Regions from separate parts of the Homo sapiens genome. Here region 2 is linked to region 1. The links come from fine-mapping of genetic effects on gene expression. A gene starts in region 1. The other region holds a variant in brackets. All regions are shown on one strand. Distances are between the middles of the regions. Region 1 holds the start of CCDC88B (coiled-coil domain containing 88B). Region 2 holds the start of PLCB3 (phospholipase C beta 3).

The links. PIP is the estimated chance that this variant, and not a neighbour inherited with it, causes the effect.
Region 2: its variant is fine-mapped to the expression of CCDC88B in whole blood (TOPMed, PIP 0.95).

The regions. Positions count from the first base shown.
Region 1 is chr11:64,336,530-64,344,844 of GRCh38, reverse strand. CCDC88B (coiled-coil domain containing 88B) reads right to left here and starts at 4,641. Exons shown (of 27, transcript NM_032251.6): 1 at 4,519-4,641; 2 at 4,093-4,238; 3 at 3,827-3,938; 4 at 3,667-3,736; 5 at 3,517-3,575; 6 at 3,341-3,424; 7 at 3,103-3,246; 8 at 2,706-2,851; 9 at 2,470-2,551; 10 at 2,165-2,323; 11 at 1,520-1,666; 12 at 1,230-1,338; 13 at 931-1,067; 14 at 1-848. The coding sequence starts at 4,578. It overlaps MIR7155 (microRNA 7155), which reads left to right and starts at 2,941; the gene lies at 2,941-2,996. LOC102723878 (a long non-coding RNA gene) reads left to right here and starts at 4,053. Exons shown (of 4, transcript NR_188518.1): 1 at 4,053-4,304; 2 at 4,767-4,945. RefSeq lists silencers at 1,794-2,088, 3,953-4,002, 4,023-4,102.
Region 2 is chr11:64,250,173-64,258,487 of GRCh38, reverse strand. It overlaps PLCB3 (phospholipase C beta 3), which reads right to left and starts at 6,958. Exons shown (of 31, transcript NM_000932.5): 1 at 6,740-6,958; 2 at 3,996-4,073; 3 at 3,672-3,740; 4 at 3,450-3,590; 5 at 3,175-3,254; 6 at 3,039-3,092; 7 at 2,872-2,947; 8 at 2,667-2,767; 9 at 1,946-2,112; 10 at 1,724-1,870; 11 at 1-15. The coding sequence starts at 6,838. RefSeq lists silencers at 5,976-6,189, 6,677-7,146 and enhancers at 5,579-6,225, 6,226-6,871, 8,166-8,315. The variant T/A (reference allele first, on the strand shown) is at 4,115.

The sequences.
Region 1 (8,315 bases):
TCCTTGGAGAGGCGGGCAGCCTCCGTGTTTTGGGCCTCCAGCTTGCGGGCCTGGGCTTCCAGCTCATCTCCAAGGGCCTCAGCCTTTCTCCTCAACTGTGCCACCTCCTCCCTGAGGGCCTCCTGCTCTGCGACACCACTGGCCAGGCTCTCCCCTGGGATTGGGCCTTCCCAGACCTGGACCTCAAGAGCCCCTTCTGACTTCTGCTGTGGTTTTTGCCAGGCTGGGTCCCTGACCGTCCCTTCCAGCCTCTGGTCATGCTCTCTGGCCTCTGCTTGTCCCGTGGCCAGGTCCAGGCCCTGGTTTGGGCCCTCCTGCTCCTCCAGCTGCACAGAGCTGGGCTCCGAAGGCCCTGGCTTGTGCTCAGGGCCCTCCTGTCTCAACCCCCAGGCCTCAGGCACCAACTCGCCTTGGGGAGCCTCTCTTCCCTCTGTCTCTCCTCCCAGCAACTGCGGGGCCTGAATTTTGGTCCCTGGACCCTGAGGTGGGGCCACAGAGGCAGGGCTCTGGAGAGAGGATCTACGGCCAGCCTTCTCCGGGGACTCCTGTGTCTCCACAGGAGAGCCTGACTCTTGCGGGGACCAGTCTGAGGCCTGGGGGTCCATGGCAGCTGCCTGAAGGGGACTCTCTGCCTCCTGTGGGTCTGAATCAGGTGCCTGGGGACACTCAGCTGATGCCTCGAGCACTGAGTCTAATGCCGGGGGAGCCAAGTCCAAGGCCTGGGGGCCTCCATCCCTTGCCTTCTGAACCAAGCCCTGAGGGCTGTGGTCGAAGGCCACAGGAGTCTGGGGAGCCTCCTCCAGCACTGGAAGAACAGGGTCCTCTCTCGGTGCCTCCAGCAGGGGGTGCTGAGGGCATACGAGAGGGACAGTCAGGCCCAGGGAGGGACTAGGGGAAGGGCCGGCCAGGACCCTGGGGGAGGGGACTTACCTGGCCCCCTGGCTGCCCCTGAAGCACCTGAAGCAGCCCCCGAAGCTCCCGGTTCTCCCTCTCAAGGGTCCGAAGCCGCCCAGCCTCTGCCTCCCTCACCTCATCTTGCAGCGAGGGGGCCGCTCCTGCTAGGGGTGCTGAGGATGAGAGATGAGGTCAGGACCCCTCCTTTACTGCCTGGCTCCTCACATACACACCCCAGAGGCTTGGGAGAAGGGAGGGAGTCAGAGGCTCTCCCCAGTACACTGCTGGAAAGCATAGGAAGCCCCCACCCCAGCCCTTCCAGTGGGGTCCCTCACCCTCCCCAGGGGATCCTGGAGGTGGCTCCAAGCTCCGCTGAAGCTCCAGCTCCAGCTCCACATTCTCCTCAGCCAGCTGGTCCACCTGATGCCGCAGAGAGTCCAGCTCCTGGGGGTGAGGGAAGGGTCAGACAAGCCCTCCACACCATGGCCAGGCCGAGTGTGTAGGTCGGAGGGTCACTAGAGGTCACCAAGAGCAGAGGTTGCAAGAATCACTAGGGACCACTAGGGAATCAATGGGGTCATGGGGTGACGGGGCAACCCAAGTGGGATCACTCTGGCTACCTTACCGCATGGGCCTCGCCCAGCCGGGTTCGCAGCAGCAGGTTCTCGCGCTGGGTCTCGTGCAGCCGGGCGCAGCGCTCTCGGGCAGCCTCCAGCTGCTCTTCCAGCAGCGCCTTGGACGCCTCCAGCACCCCCGAGAGCACCCGCTCCTCCTGGTGGGAGAGCAGGGAGAACCGGTAGCCACGCAGCCCCCATGCACTCCAGCGCCTGAGGGTCCCAAACTCCTTCCCCTCAGCCTGTCACAGACCCTGCCTCCCTCCCCCACCCTGCACCCCATCAGTCTCTAGGCCCCGCCACTCCCTTCCATCTTCTTCCCACCAAGATCTCTTCAGGTACTTTCTCCCTCGCCCCTGGCCCCGCCCTTTGTGCAGGCCCCGCCCTTCTGTCCATGCCCCGCCCCTCCCCCCCGGGAACAGCCCTCCTTCCAAGGCTGCATCACTTACACAGCCCCCCCACTCCCCTACACCTGCCCCATCCTCTGGAGGCCCTTTCCCAGACGCCACCTCCCTGAATTTGTCCTCACCCATTTCTCCACCTGTGACTGTCCCCTCCAGAGAACCTGCCTCTCTGCCCTCGGGACCCAATCTCGCCCCTCCTCCTGGCCCGCCCCCTCGCGCACGCCCCGCCCCGCGGCTCCGTCTCCGCCTCACCTCCAGCTGACTCTTGTAGGCCTCAGCCGCCTGCAGCCGCTCGCGGCAGCGCCTCAGCTCCTCCTGCAGGCGGGGCAGGCGGCCGGCCCGCTCCCGCAGCGCCTCTGCCTCCTCGCGGTACAGCTCGGCCCGCTTGGCCTGTCCCGACAGCGCCTGGGCCTGGGCCAGACGGTGTGGAGCTGGGAACAGCCAGCCGCGGGCCAGAGGGATTAGGGACGGGAAGGAGCCGGGTTGGGAGGGAGGCAATGGGACCGGGTGCGGGGAGGTTAGGGAATGCCGCGGTGGCGGGGAGCATGTGAGCGCACCTCCTGGCGGAGCCTTCTTATTTCGGCCTCCAAACCCTGCACCTCGGCCTGGGAGTCTAGCAGCAGCTCGGCCTTCTCCTCCCTGGAGGGAAGGGGAGTCTAGGGAGGGTCTGGGGGCCCACAACCCCCAGCCCTTCCCAGGCCTGACCCCTCCCGTAGCCACCAGGGCTAGGGTCCCATCCAGGCTTAATCTGCCCCTCTCCACTCAGTCCCCTTCCCAGGCTGCGCACACTCACAGCTCCTGCCGCAGACGCCGCAGCTGAGCCTTGGCGTTGGCCAGCTGCAGGGCCAGATGGTGCGAGGGGCCCTCGGCGGGAGCCCTAGAGGGAGCCTCAGGCCTCAAGCAGAGGGGTTCTCGCTCCAGCAGCAGTTCAGCCAGCCGCTGTAGGTCAGGGGTCAAGGGTCAGGACTAACTTATCCAATGCCTCTGCACATCGACCCCCAACCACAACACCAGACATGGGGTTGTGGTCTGGGGTCTTGGGCCATCTGGTTGTGACATCACTGATGGCCCAAGACCTCAGACCACAACCCCATGCCTGGGCCCCAAACTTCCATCTCCCTTGCACAACCGGCTCCCTGATGGTCCTCCAGTTCCCCAACCTGAGTCCACGATGCCCCTGCTGCCCCTACCTGGGCCCCCAGGTCACGCTCCCGTGCCAGCTTCGACAGTGTCCCCATCAGGCTCCGGGACAGCATCTCCAGCTCGGCAGGTGCCAGCTCCCCAGGATCTGGCCCAGACAGTGCCAGCACCACGCCGGCCCCCGGCTGGGTCACCTGGGGCGCAGGAAGAGCAGTTCAGTGGAAGCCGCGGTGTGGCAAGGGCGTCCCAGGTGCCATACCAGTCTGGGCTGCCGAACCGTCTCAGTACCTCCTGGATGGCAGCGGCCAGCTCGCTCTGGACCTCGAGACTGAGGCCCTGGATGTGGCGGATGAAGAGTTCCCGGTGCTCACACTGAGGGGAGACAGGAAGGGGAGCTGGTGCAGGATCTCCCTCCTCTACCGCCAAAGCTCGACCCTAACCTTTCCTTCCCACCGCCGGCTCACCTGTACTGACGCTCCCAACAGTAGCCGAAGAACGCCTTCCAGCTGCTCCACCGCTTCTTCTGCAAGGCACATGCCACAAGGGGTTAACTGGGGCGGGGAAGGTAGAGTAGTGCGGGGGCAGAGGCAGGAGGGTGTGGGTGGGGAGAGCACCTGAGAGAGGGTCAAATCCCAATGTCTGGAGGTCTGGGGGTGGCGACAGGATCAGCAGCTGCAGCTCCTCCTGGAGGCAGAGAGGCAGACTATATGAGGCGCCTTCCCGAAGGGGCTCCTCTTCCCCTCCTGTCTCCGCCTTTCCCTCGAGACCCCTTACCTGGTAGAAGTCCCTCAGTCGGCCCCACAGGTGGTTCAGGTTCCACACTCGCCAGGCAGCAGGTCCGTCAAGGCCTCTGAGCATCCGAGGTCCCCCTCGGGAGCTGGGGGCACTATGAGCCGGAGGTGGGCTCGAGGACCCGCCTCCCGTCAACAGGCCTCGCCCACCGTCCCTCAGGCCCCGCCCACTGAGCATCAGGCTCCGCCCACCCGCTTCCCCTCCTCTCAGATCCTTCCCCGCCACCGCCCCGGCCCGATGCCCCTTACATGATGCCCAGCACCCGGAGGAGCAGGGCCCCATCGCTGAGGCGCAGGAATCTCTTCTCCAACCAAAGGGGCGGCTCTTCCTCCTCTTCCTCTTCTTCCCCCTCCGAGTCCTCCGCCTCCCCGACCAGCCCGGCCAGTCCCAGCGCCTGTGAGGAGCCCAGAGGGGTCAGCCGACCAGCAGAGTGAACCCTGAGCCCCTCCGACCTGCCCCAGTGAGCCCAAGCACCCCTTCTCACCCGTCCTCTGAGTGCCTCTGTCCCCTCTTCCCTCACCACAGCCCCCCACACCATATCTCCATCCCCCACATTTGAACCCAGCCCTCCCCTCCGGCCTGGTTCTGCCTCACCCTCCCCCGGCCAGCGCCAACACCAGCCCCTGGCTGGGGCTCACTTCCCCTCCCCAACCCGCTGCCACCTGCCCCCTCACCCAGGTAGCCAGACTCCCACTCAGGAAGTCTCTGAGCCTGGGCCCCTTGCCCCCCTCCATGCCCGGGTCGGGGTGCCCGTCTCACTGTGGCAGCTGCACCTGCCCTGAGAGGAAGAGGAAGTCCCCGAGTGGGGGATCCCGGGGCCAGCCACAGACACCCTGTGCAGCTTCCTCCTTCCGGGTGCAGGCGGGCCTGGGCAGTCTGAGTCCTACCTCAGCCCCCACCTCACCTCCCTGCATCCTCCTAGCATCTCTGCAGGGCTAGCCCAGAGGTTGGCGGCGGAAGGCCCACAGCTCCCCTGGCTCCATGGGCAATGACCGAACAGCCCTTCACCTCTCTGGGCCTTGTTTTCTCAAACTGAAACTGGAGAGGATGACCCCAGCCTGGGACCTTCGAGGGCCTCAAAAGGGCTCTGGGCCTTGCGTGGTGAGTTTGGTCACCCACACACCCATCTTCCCAAATGCCAGGCTTCACTCACTACAGCGTTCTTTCTTTTCCCTTCAGTATTTCTCAAAGTTACCCAAACCACATCCCCTGGGAAGCCTGGTTCAGATGCTCCTCCAAGAAGCCTCCCTTGAACCCCAGATAGAAGGGAGCATCATTCCTGTGACCTCACCCCACCCCATCCTCTATACACTCGAGACTGTTGTAGCCATACTAGGTGCTATGAAGGGGAGGGGATTTGACCTCGGCAGGATGATCAGGGAAGGCATCCTGGAGTACGCATGAGATCAGGGATGGCTGGGTTAACAGGGCAAAGTGGAAAGGAAGGGAGGGTATTCCAGGCAGCAGGAACAGAATGTGCAACTGCTCTGAGGCAGCTGGAAGCATGGTCAGCAAAAAGATTGGAAATTATGCATGTTTTATCTATTCCAAGATGCTTAATGTTCACGTTTCACTTTTTGTTTTGTTTTGTTTTTAAGAGACAGAGTCTGAATCTGTGACCTAGTCTGGAGTGCAGTTGCAAGATCACAACTCGCTGCAACTTCAACCTCCTGGGCTTAAGCAATTCTCCTACTTCAGCCTTCTGAGTAACTGGGACTACGGGTGTGTGCCACCACACCTGGCTAATTATTTTGCTTGTTTTTTGTACAGACAGAGTCTTGCTGTGTTGCCCGGGCTGGTCTCGAACTCCTGGGCTCAAGTGATCCTCCCGCCTTGGCCTCCTGAAGGGCTGAGATGACGGCATGAGCTGCCTCACGCAGCCCCCATTCTACACCTCTGAAGTGAGTTTACATGGTACAGTTGCTGTCTGGCTAGCTGCCGTCCCAACATCACTGTCAGGACCCACACCTGAAAAGCACCAGCATCAAATCCTTCAGAAGAGTGTCAGCAGCTTGGAAGAAATCCTAGAGGCAAGCAGAACCCTTTTTAGCCCTGGGACTCAAATGGTGGGAAACCCCAGGGGAAGGGAACCAGGCTTGTCAGTGACACTCCCTTTTTTTTTTTTTTTTTTTTTTTGGTGAGACGGAGTCTCGCTGTGTCTGTCGCCTAGGCTGGAGTGTAATGGTGCAATTTCGGGTCACTGCAACCTCCGTCTCCCGGGTTCAAGCAATTCTCCTGCCTCAGCCACCTGAGTAGCTGGGATTATAGGCACCTGCCACCACGCCCAGATGCTTTTTTGTGTTTTTAGTAGAGACAGGGTTTCACCATGTTGGCCAGGCTGGTCTCGAACTCCTGACCTCAGGCAATCCACCCACCTCGGCCTCTGAAAGTGCTGGGATTACAGGTGTGAGCCACCACGCCCGGCCTGTCAGTGACACTCCTAGAGCAGAGTGAAAACTCGGCTCCACTTCATCTGCACAATTGTAAAGCTGGCTTAAGAGCGCCTGGCTGTTTTATGGAATGTTTGGAGCAGTACTGCTCTCCGTAGAACTCTCAAGGACTCAGAGAAGGAGGTGGCAGGCAGACACAGACATCACGACTCTCAGACCAAAAATGATTCAAACAAGTTGGACTCTAAATGTGAAGGAGTTTTCTGAACATGGTAACCAATTTATTTTGCTTCTATTATCCTTTTTATGTGTGCATGAGAATTATATATGATAAGAATCTACATTTAAGTGAAACAGAGCTCTTTCGAGAAATACAAAAGAAAAATTCTAGTGATGAAAGAACCTTGGGACATCGTTAACTGGCAGCATTCTCTTTTCTTAGTGACATTTTTATAATCGATGACATCTTAGTTTTTTTTTGTTTTTTGTTTTGAGACAGGATCTCTGTCACCCAGGCTGGAGTGCAGTGATGCAATCACAACACACTGTAGCCTCAACTTCCCTGGCTCAAGGGATCCTCCCACCTCAGCCTCCTCAGTATCTGGGACCACAGACATCCACCATCCACCCAACTAATTTTTGTATTTTTTGTAAAGATGGGGTTTCACCATGTTGCCCAGGCTGGTCTTGAACTCCTGATCTCAAGCAATCCGCTTGCCTTGACCTCCCAAAGTGCTGGGATTACAGGCGTGCACCACTACATCTGGCCAACATCTTAGATTTGATGAAATATGGCGTAATAATGACATCATAGCAAACACGGGCTTCCCTTGAGCTAGGCATGGTTGTAAGTGCTTTACACTTACTAACGTGTTGGCTCTGGACTAGTCTGTGAAATAAGGACTATGGATTATCTCCATTTTATAGAGGAGGGAACAGAGAGGTTAAGTAATTTGCCTAAGGTCACACAGCTTTTAAGTGGCAGAGCCAACTAAAAGAAGGCAGTGGGGCAAGAGTGCAAGGAGCAAGGGGCACCCATAGTCAAGGTGAGCTGGGCTTGACCAGGCCACAGGAAGCCATGCAGGATTGGTAGCAGAGGAGCACAGCCAGCTGTTCAGCCCTTTTGAAATACCTCTGGAAATGGGAGTGATCCTCTCATTGTTGCCAGAATTCCAGGCCTTGATGCCCAGCACAAGCCTTCATTAAATGTCCCTGGGGTGATTATTATTATTATTATTATTATTTTTGAGACAGAGTCTCGCCCTATCACCTACGCTGGAGTGTGGTGGAGCAATCTCGGCTCACTGCAGCCTCTATCTCCTGGGTTCAAGCGGTTCTTCTGCCTCAGCTCCCTACAGAGCTGGGATTACAGGCATGCGCTGCCATGCCTGACTAATTTTTCTATTTTTTTTAGTAGAGATGGGGTTTCACCATGTTGGCCAGGCTGGTCTCAAACTCCCGACCTTAGGTGATCTGCCCACCTCAGCCTCCCAAAGTGCTGGGATTACAGGTGTGAGCCACCACACCCAACCTGATTATTATCTTTAGTATTAATAATATCAAGGATCAAGGCCGGGCACGGTGGCTCACGCCCGTAATCCCAGCACTTTGGGAGGCTGAGGCGGGCGGATCACCTGAGGTCCGGAGTTCGAGACCAGCCTGACCAACATGGAGAAACCCCATCTCTACTAAAAATACAAAATTAGCCAGCCACGGTGGCTCACACCTGTCATCCCAGCTACTCGGGAGGCTGAGGCAGGAGAATCGCTTGAACCCAGGAGGCGGAGGTTGCGGTGAGCCGAAATCGCACCACTGCAATCCAGCCTGGACAACAAAAGGGAAACTCCATCTCAAAAAAAAAAAGAAAAGAGAGAAAGAGATCATGTCCTTCGTGGGACATGGATGGAGCTGGAGGCCATTATTCTTAGCAAACTAATGCAGGAACAGGAAACCAAACACCGCATGTTGTCCCTCATAAGTGGGAGTTAAATGATGAGAACACACGGACACAAAGAGGGGAACAACAGACACTGGGGCCTACTTGAGGGTGGAGGGTGGGAGGAGGGAGAGGAGCAGGAAAA
Region 2 (8,315 bases), 86 kb after region 1:
CAGCCAGCTGCCCCGCTGGGGCGGCGAGGCTCTGTCACCGAGGCCGCCCACCAGCCCAGCTCCTCACCACCCCGGCCCCACCTGGAACCAGGACATGCTGGATTTGCAGAGGGCTCTCCATCTCTCAGATGGATACCCACCACCTGTCCATCCCACCAGCGTGAGCTGGGGGGAGTCATCCCTGAGACTCACTATAGCTCCCCACTGCCTCAACAATCCCTCCCTCTCCTCACTCCCTCCACCCACCTCAGCCCTGGCACAGCTCACACCACCTCCTGTGTGGAAGACTCCAGCCCTCCCTGCCTCCAATCCAATCTCTTTTTTTTTTTTTTTTGAGACGGAACCTCGCTCTGTCACCCAGGCTGGAGTGCAGTGGCACAACCTCGGTTCACTGCAACCTCCGCCTCCCTGGTTCAAGCGATTCTCCTGCCTCAGCCTCCCGAGTAGCTGGGATTACAGTTGCCCACCACCATGCCTGGCTAATTTTTGTATTTTTAGTAGAGATGGGGTTTCACCATGTTGGCCAGGCTGGTCTCGAACTCCTGACCTCAGGTGATCCACACGCCTCAGCCTTTCAAAGTTCTGGGATTACAGGTGTGAACCACTGTGCCTGGCCTCAATCCAATCTCTATAGAGCACCTGGCATCATCCTTCTAAAAACATATCATATCAGGTCACATCACCTCTTCTGCTTCACCCTCCAAAAAGCCTCTTCCTCACACCCAGGATGAATCCAAGTGCCTCTAGGCCCCTGGGCTTAGCCCTGCCTTGCTCTCCCTCTCTTAGCAGGCACCTATCTCCAGCACTCTGCACCCTGCCGCACCAGCTTCCTTTCTGCTTTTTTATTATTTATTTAATTTTTTTTTTTAGAAAAGGGTCTCTCACTCTGTCACCCAGGCTGGAGTGCAGTGGTGCAATCACAGCTTACTCCTGCCTCAACCTTCCCAGAACCAAGCGATACTCCCACCTCACCCTCCCAAGCAGCTAGGACCACAGGCATGCGCCACTATGCCCAGCTAATTTTTTAAAAATTATTTGTAGAGATGGGGTCATGCTATGTTGCCCAGACTGGTCTCAAAACGTGGGCTCAAGTAATCTGCCTGCTTCAGCCTCCCAAAGTTCTGGGATTACAGGCATGAGTCACCGCACCCAACCCCCTTCCAGCCTCTTAAAAGCACCCTGCAGGCTGGGCGAGGTGGCTCATGCCTATAATCCCAGCACTTTGGGAGGGCGAGGCAGGCGGATCACCTGAGGTTGAGAGTTTGAGACCAGCCTGACCAACATGGAGAAACCCCATCTCTACTAAAAATACAAAATTAGCCGGGCGTGGTGGCGAATGCCTGTAATCCCAGCTACTTGGGAGGCTGAGGCAGGAGAATCGCTTGAACCTGGGAGGCAGAGGTTGCGCTGAGCCTAGATCGTGCCATTGCACTCCAGCCTGGGCAACAAGAGCGAAACTCTGTCTCAAAAAAAAAAAAAAAAAAAAAAAAGGACCCTGAAGTCTCTCCTGCTGCAGGCCCTAACACAAGCTGTTCCAGCCCTTCCCTGGGAAAGCCACCATGAGGCCCCACTGCTCAGGGCTGGCTGCCTGTTCCCTGCCTGCATCCCCAGCACTGGCCAATGAATGAGCAAATGGGCCAAAAGGACTGTGCCCCAGGAGGAGTGGGGCTGTGCAAGGGTCACAGGGCAGAGGTCACGGGTGCCACCCTTGCTCCCCACTCACCAGTGAGATAGGTGTTATGCGAGGAGTTGATGAAGTAGGCACTCAGTGGCTGGGTCATGTCCGTGCTCAGATCCAGGGCTTCCAGGGGCAGGATGCCATTCTCCTCGCCTCCCAGGTAGCGGCTAAAGCCCTCCATGGACATCTGGTCTGGGGTGGGAGAGGATCAGCAGGGTCAGCTGGGGTCCCACCTGCCCCCACCCACCTGCACCCCAGCCAGCTCACCTCGCTCCAGAAACTGCTGGTTGGGCTCATACTTTTCGATGAGCAGCCGGGCCTGGGAGGGCCGCAGGGGCGGGTACAGCACTTCGTTGAGTCTCGGGTCGCGTTGCTTCTGGTTGATGAAGTCCATGAGCTGCTCCAGCGTCAGGTATGGCTTGCCCTTGGCGCCTCTGGAGGGGACAGGAAGCTGGGTCAGGATGGAGCCTGGCAGGGCTCCCACCCCGTCGCCAAGCCCTTGCCCTGGGCAAGGGAGTCAGAAGGCCTGCCCCTGGATCTGGCACCCAGTGAGTGGGACTCTGGGTGAGTCATGGCCAACCTCTGGGCCTCAGTTTCCCCCTTTACTCTCCTGACTACTCAGGATTGTCAAGGCAGCAGACTAGTGGGCACCAGCAATGGCCAGGGCTTAGGAGCTGCCAAGTGGTCAGCCCACCACCCCTCGCTTCCAGACCTCACAACACACCTGAGGCTTGGACCCCATTGCAGAGTGGGCTGATTAAACCAACCCTGGCACAGGGTTAGCCCAGAGCTGCCTGTAACTGAGGGGCAGAAACGGCGGGTCTGAGTACAGGAACATCACCGACAGGTTCTCCCTGGGCACCCCTCCGCCCCCTGGCGCTCCAGGACCCGGCCCACCAGTTTCCCCTCTCCCCATTGAGCTAGAGGCACGCTAAGCAGAAGCTAAACACAGAGCACAGGGGTTGTGAGGCAGGCCGGGCCCACTCACATCTCCAGCAGGATCTTGTCAATGTCCGGCCGCAGACACAGCTTGTTCAGGAACCGCTCAAAGATTTCCAAGGAAAACTCATCAGGCCGGATGGACTCACTCTGGAGGTCGAGGAGTGTGGGGTGAGAAGCCAGGGGCGGGCAGCCCCGTAAGGGTGGGTGCCCACCGTGACACCCCACCCCGCCCCTGTCCCCACCCCACACACCCGGTTGAATTTGAGGCCACAGGATTCCAGCGCAGTCTCCACCCGCTTCTTGTCTGCTGAGAACATCTTCAGGATGCTGATGCGGGCAGGAGGGGTTCAGGGTCAGTGGAGGACAAAGGTCACCAAGGTCAGGGCAGGAGGAAGGTGCTGGGGGAAGGGGTGCTCACTTCTTGACGGGGATCCGACCATCCTGGTTCACCTGCAGCTTCAGCTTCGTGTATCTGGGAAGGCAGATGAAGAGGTCACACCCTGAAAACGGCCACGTGAACCCCCCGGCTCCCCCTCGGGTGGCCTGGGGCTCACGCTTTGCGCAGGAAGGTGTTCCGGGAGGCGTTCTGAGCCAGGATGTTCATAGCCAGCTTGAATAGCTCCTCAGACCAGACCTGGGGGGCCAGTATACACGGGGAGGCGGTGAGTGGGGGACACAGGGGCTGCCCAGCCACAACCCAGGTCCACAACTGCCTCTGGTACACAGTAGGTCACAGAGCAGCCTAGAACACAGCAGGTGTTCGGTAAGTGACGGCCGACTCACAGAATAAGACAGTGACTCCCCCTTCGTCCCCTTGGTGCCAGCCCACCTTGGCTGTGTCATCCTGCACGGCCATGAAGTTCAAGAACACTGTGTTCACTGGGTCTGGCCCAGACACCACCGTCATCAGCTTCTCCTCCAGCCGGGCATCGGGACCCCCAAAGCCCAGAACTTCCCGGATCTTGGGGTCCTGAGTAGGTGACAGCGAAGGGTGAAGAGGGGGCTCCCGCACAGCCTCGCTGTGGTCTTCACTCCCAGGCTCATCACTCACCTTGGGCAGGCGGGCGTACCGGCCTGTCCGTGTGTCCCTGATGGAACTGATGTCCAGTGTGTCCACCTCCTGGGGGGAACCAGATGCCAGGCTGAGTATGAGAGGCTGCAGGGCAATAGCCAGGAGCTTCCAAGCTCTCTACCCAGGCCAGGGAATGGCCAGCCCCTGGCTATAGCCCCAGCCTCAGCTCCTGCCCTGAGCACTTCCTGTCTGGGCAGCAGTGGGAGAGGTCAGCCTGCAGCCGGGCCCCACCCCCACGGGCAGGGCAGGGGTCTGGGACAGGGGTCCTTGGCCTGAGCGAGCTGCACCAGCGCCCACCCTCACCATGTTGGGGCCCGTCCAGTACAAGAAGAAGCCATTGGGGTCCACACGCAGGGTCACCAGGTTCCGACTGGAGGTCTCCTGAGGACAGCACAGGGCAGCAGGGGTCAGGAAGTGAGGGC[T/A]GTGGTGCAGGCCTGGCCCCTGGGGCCCTCCCATCATGCACCCCAGAGTTCCTGCCCATGAGCTAAGACGAAACCTCATCCAGTCCACAGGTCCTGTGTGGCTGCCTGTGGCCCTCAGAACAAAGCCAAGGTCCTAGGTGTGACATTTAGTGTCACACCTACCTCAAAGCCTCTTCCCAGCCTCACCTCCCTCTGGCCCTAGGATTCTACCTGACCTTTCCCAGGGCTTTGTCTCATGTTCCCTTTGCCAGGACACCCTGCCCTTCCTTCTCCACCCGTGAAATCTGACCCACCCCCTGGAAGAGGTCCCCAGCCCCCATCCTGGGCTCAGTTTCCCCAGAAGTGCTGAGAGCTCTGTGACAGTGGCAGCCCCCCAATCCACCCCACTGCAGAATGTTTAAGGCATGAAAGTGAGAAGTCTGACTCCCACTGCCCTTCTGCATCCCTTGGGACATCACGATAGCCCTGTGGTCTGCCTCAAAGCCCATTATCCACCTTACCACATCTGCCGGGGTCCTCACAGCCTCAAAGCTCATCCCCATCTCGTAGAAGAACAGTCCCCCTAGAAGGGGACTTGCCCTACTCTCAGGACTGGGCAGTGAGCTCTTCCTCCCTCAAACAGCCGTGCAGCTGGCAGGGGGCAGGGAAGTGCATGCCAGCCCCATTTTCTAAGAAGGGCCCGGTCCCTGGCACACTACCAGGGCCACCCTGTGTGACTCAGGACCAGCAGCCAGAGGGGCTGTCCTCCAGGGCTTAGACTCGGCCAGGGCCAGAGTGAACAAGTGGCTACAGGTAGAACCCTCCTATTCCAGGTTCTTCCAGACAGAAAAGGACCCCACCTCATGTTGGGTGCCACCCCCAAAATGCATCTCAGTGTCTGGTGGACAATACTATTATTATCAATACATCTCATATACGCACACCGCCCCTACTGCGCACCAGGTACAGTTCTATGCACCTAGCATCTTCGAGCACACAAAGGCCTCCTAACCAGCCTAAGAGGCATGTGCTGTTGTCACTCCCATTTTACAGATGAGGACACTGAGTTACAGGGACACTTCGTAGCCTGCCCGAGATCACTGGAGCCAGGACCTGCTTGCAGGCAGTGTGGTTGCAGCGTCCTGTGACCTGGGAAGCAGGGAGCGGAGACTTCTGCCAGGCTCCCGGCTCCTGGCCTCAGCCACACCCCATTGTGGGGCCTGGGATAACTCTCTGCTTTCCAGACCTCAGTTTCCTCTTCTGGAGAATGGGGATTGCACCAGCCCCACCCATGGCAGGCTTTGCTTACAAAAGATGGGCGTTCATCTGGGAACAGAAGGCCCCCAAAATTTGGGGATGCATGGGCCTCCCCACTTCAGTGTGCTGACACCCAGCCCCAGCACTTCTCCGGATTCCCAACCCTACCCTGGGCCTGAGGCCCCCGAATGGTGTGCAGAGCGGGGAGTCTATGGGTACTGCCCCTAGTGTTTCCCTCCCACCTCTCCCCAGGGGTCTGGACCTCAAAGGCAGCCCAGGTCCCCTGCTCTCCTGCCCCAAGCCTCCGTCAGCACCCCCCACCCCACCCCCAGGGCCCTCTCCCTGTTCCCACTTCCTTATTTGGGTTTATCACAGTGGAATGAAAAGAAGAAACTTTTCCCTTCAGGCCAGCCTGGGGGGAGGGGTCTCCCCCGGCCCCTGGGGCCCCCAGGCACCCCACCTCGCACACCTGCCGCTTCAGGCCACGCCCCCATCTCCTCCCCCCAGCTCCCACGCCTACCCCGGGGCCCCACCCAGCCGGAAAAGAGCCCAGAGTCTTCCAGGCCCGTGGCCTGACTGGGAAGGAGCTGCGAGGAAGCTCAGGCCGGCCGGGTGGAGGCCCTAGGGAAGGAAGGGCCCAGGGGGCAGAAGAGGATGCACCCAGGATGGGGATGGGCAGCCGAAGGTGGGGACACAGGCATTTGGGAAGCACCAGGGGCAGGACAGGGAAAGGGGGGCCAGGATGTATTGGGGTTCAAGGTCCCAAGCCTAAGGAGTGGGGAGCAAAGTTCCCAGGGGTGGAGGAACTTGGGGGGCAAAGTCTCCACTAGGGGGTGACTGGGTGCTCCCATCTGAACAGGGAGCTGGGCTGGGATCCAGAAGCAGGGCGAAGGGGTGCCAACCAGAACAGGGGGAAAAATGATGAATGGACGAGGACTGTTCAGGCAGGGCACCGGGGAGAGTAGGGGCGCCCTGGCACACACCCAGAATGAGGATGCCCCCAGCCAGCCTGGAAGTCAGGGTCCTGCAGCCGGGGAGTCTAGTGCTGGGCAGGGGTCTGGGCACCAGGCCAGGATCGGGGAACGAGAATTAGTCTGGCAGGGAGCGGTGGGAAGAACGAATGGAAAACGGGGGGACGGGGTTTATTGGGGTTCAAAGTCTCTGCGCCAAGGAGTGGAGGCAAATTTTCCAGAGCTGAGGGACTGGGAGTTGGGGGGACAAAGTCTTCATTACGGAGACGATCGGGGACTTAAGTTTCCGGGGCGCCGCCAGACTGGGATGAGGGTGGCGCCACGGGCAGGCGAGGCTGGGGTGGGGGTCCCCAGCGTCTGGTCGAGCTTGACTGAAAGAGTCCCGGGATTTGGGCGGAGCAGGGGCCCGCGCGCTTACCTCGTCCCATTTGATGAACTTACTCCCGCGCCGCAGGGTCTCCACCACGGTGGGCGGCTCCAACTGCAGCGCGTGGACGCCGGGCTGGGCGCCCGCCATGGCCCGGCCAGGGGCGGGTCGGGGACCCACGGAGCCCTGACGGGGACCGACGGCGCCGCTGCTCCCACCGCGCGGCCCGCTCCGGCCCCGCGGCGTCAGTGCCCGCCCGCCCGCCAGTCTGTCCCGGACCGACCAGAGCCTCGGCGGGGCCCGGGCGGGGCGGGGACGGGGCGGGGCCTCCCGGGCCCCGCCCCCTCCCACCGCGTCGGCTCCCCCTGGCGGCCGGGGCGGCGACTGCAGCCGGAGCGGGGATTGGGGCAGGGGCACGCGGACGGGTCGGGGGCTTTGCTGCGGGGCTCAGCAGAACCTGATTCTTCAGGCCTGTGGTGGAAGGAGGGCGCTGGGGGCCGAAGTGGCTGTTGGGGAGCAGCTGGAGGGACTGGGTGTAGAGGGCGCTGCTTAAGGCGGTCCGGGATCAGCCCACTGAGGTTTCCGAGCGACTAGGGCTGCAGTACCAGCGGAGGGCTAGACTTGGGCCGGGGGGTCGCTGCACAGCCCTGTCGCCCACCCTCTTCTGCCGCACTTAGCTGAATGCAGGAAAAGCTTCTTCCGCCCCCCTCTGCCCTGGCTTCGCCTCACCCACTCTTATGCCGCGCGGTCCCCCCTCCCTGGGAGCACTTAGCCGGCTAATGGACCTCCCGCCGGCAGGCACCCCTCCCCCGTCCCTAGCCCAGGGAGGCCGGGCGCCTGCCACCTCCTTTAAGGACCCAAGCATCCTGGTCTTCGAGAGTGAGCCCTAGAACAGCCCCCTTCTTGTTGCTGCAGACTCCCATGACTGGAACCTGACTGTGAGCCTCTTGGCTGGGAACCGCGGGGGGAACGCTGTTGTCTGCCCAGAGGGGTCAGAAGCTTTGTGGATGTCCCCAGACAGGAGGGTTGAGGAGGGGCTCTGCAGTGCCTGGCCCACAGCAGGTGCCCTGAAATCTGCGTTCCAGAGATGGGAGCGGGGAAGGCGCATGGGCAATGGGATGGGTGGGGGCTGCAGCCCCTCCCGCAGGGCTTAGCTGGTGGGGGGGGTTCCTGCCTGGGGGCCCCTGTGGGAGCCCCCCCAATACAGAGGCAGTAACAGCAGCAGGTTTAAAGTAGAACTCATCCAGAGGGGCCAGCCAAGTCACCTAGAAACCCAGAAAGAGATGCAGCTGGCTCTGGGGGAGGAGGGGTCAGCAAAGGAGGAGCTCCCCTGCAGGCCCCTTTGCCCCAGGCTCTGAGACCTCCACAAGGAGCCCTGCCTGGCCCTGGCCTTCCTCCACACCCCGCCAAGTTCTCCATCAACTCTAACCTGGCGGATCTCCTCGCTCTCAGCCCTGGCCCTGTGGGGTGTGATTATGATCTCCACTTGAGGCCCAGAGAGGGGAAGGGACTTGCCCAAGGTCACACAGCTTCTTAGGAGGATTTCAACCCTCCGACTTCCTGAGGCCCAGGAGCCTCTAGACCTCATTGGGAAAACAGAACCATGCAAGGTGGAGCTTGGCCTCTG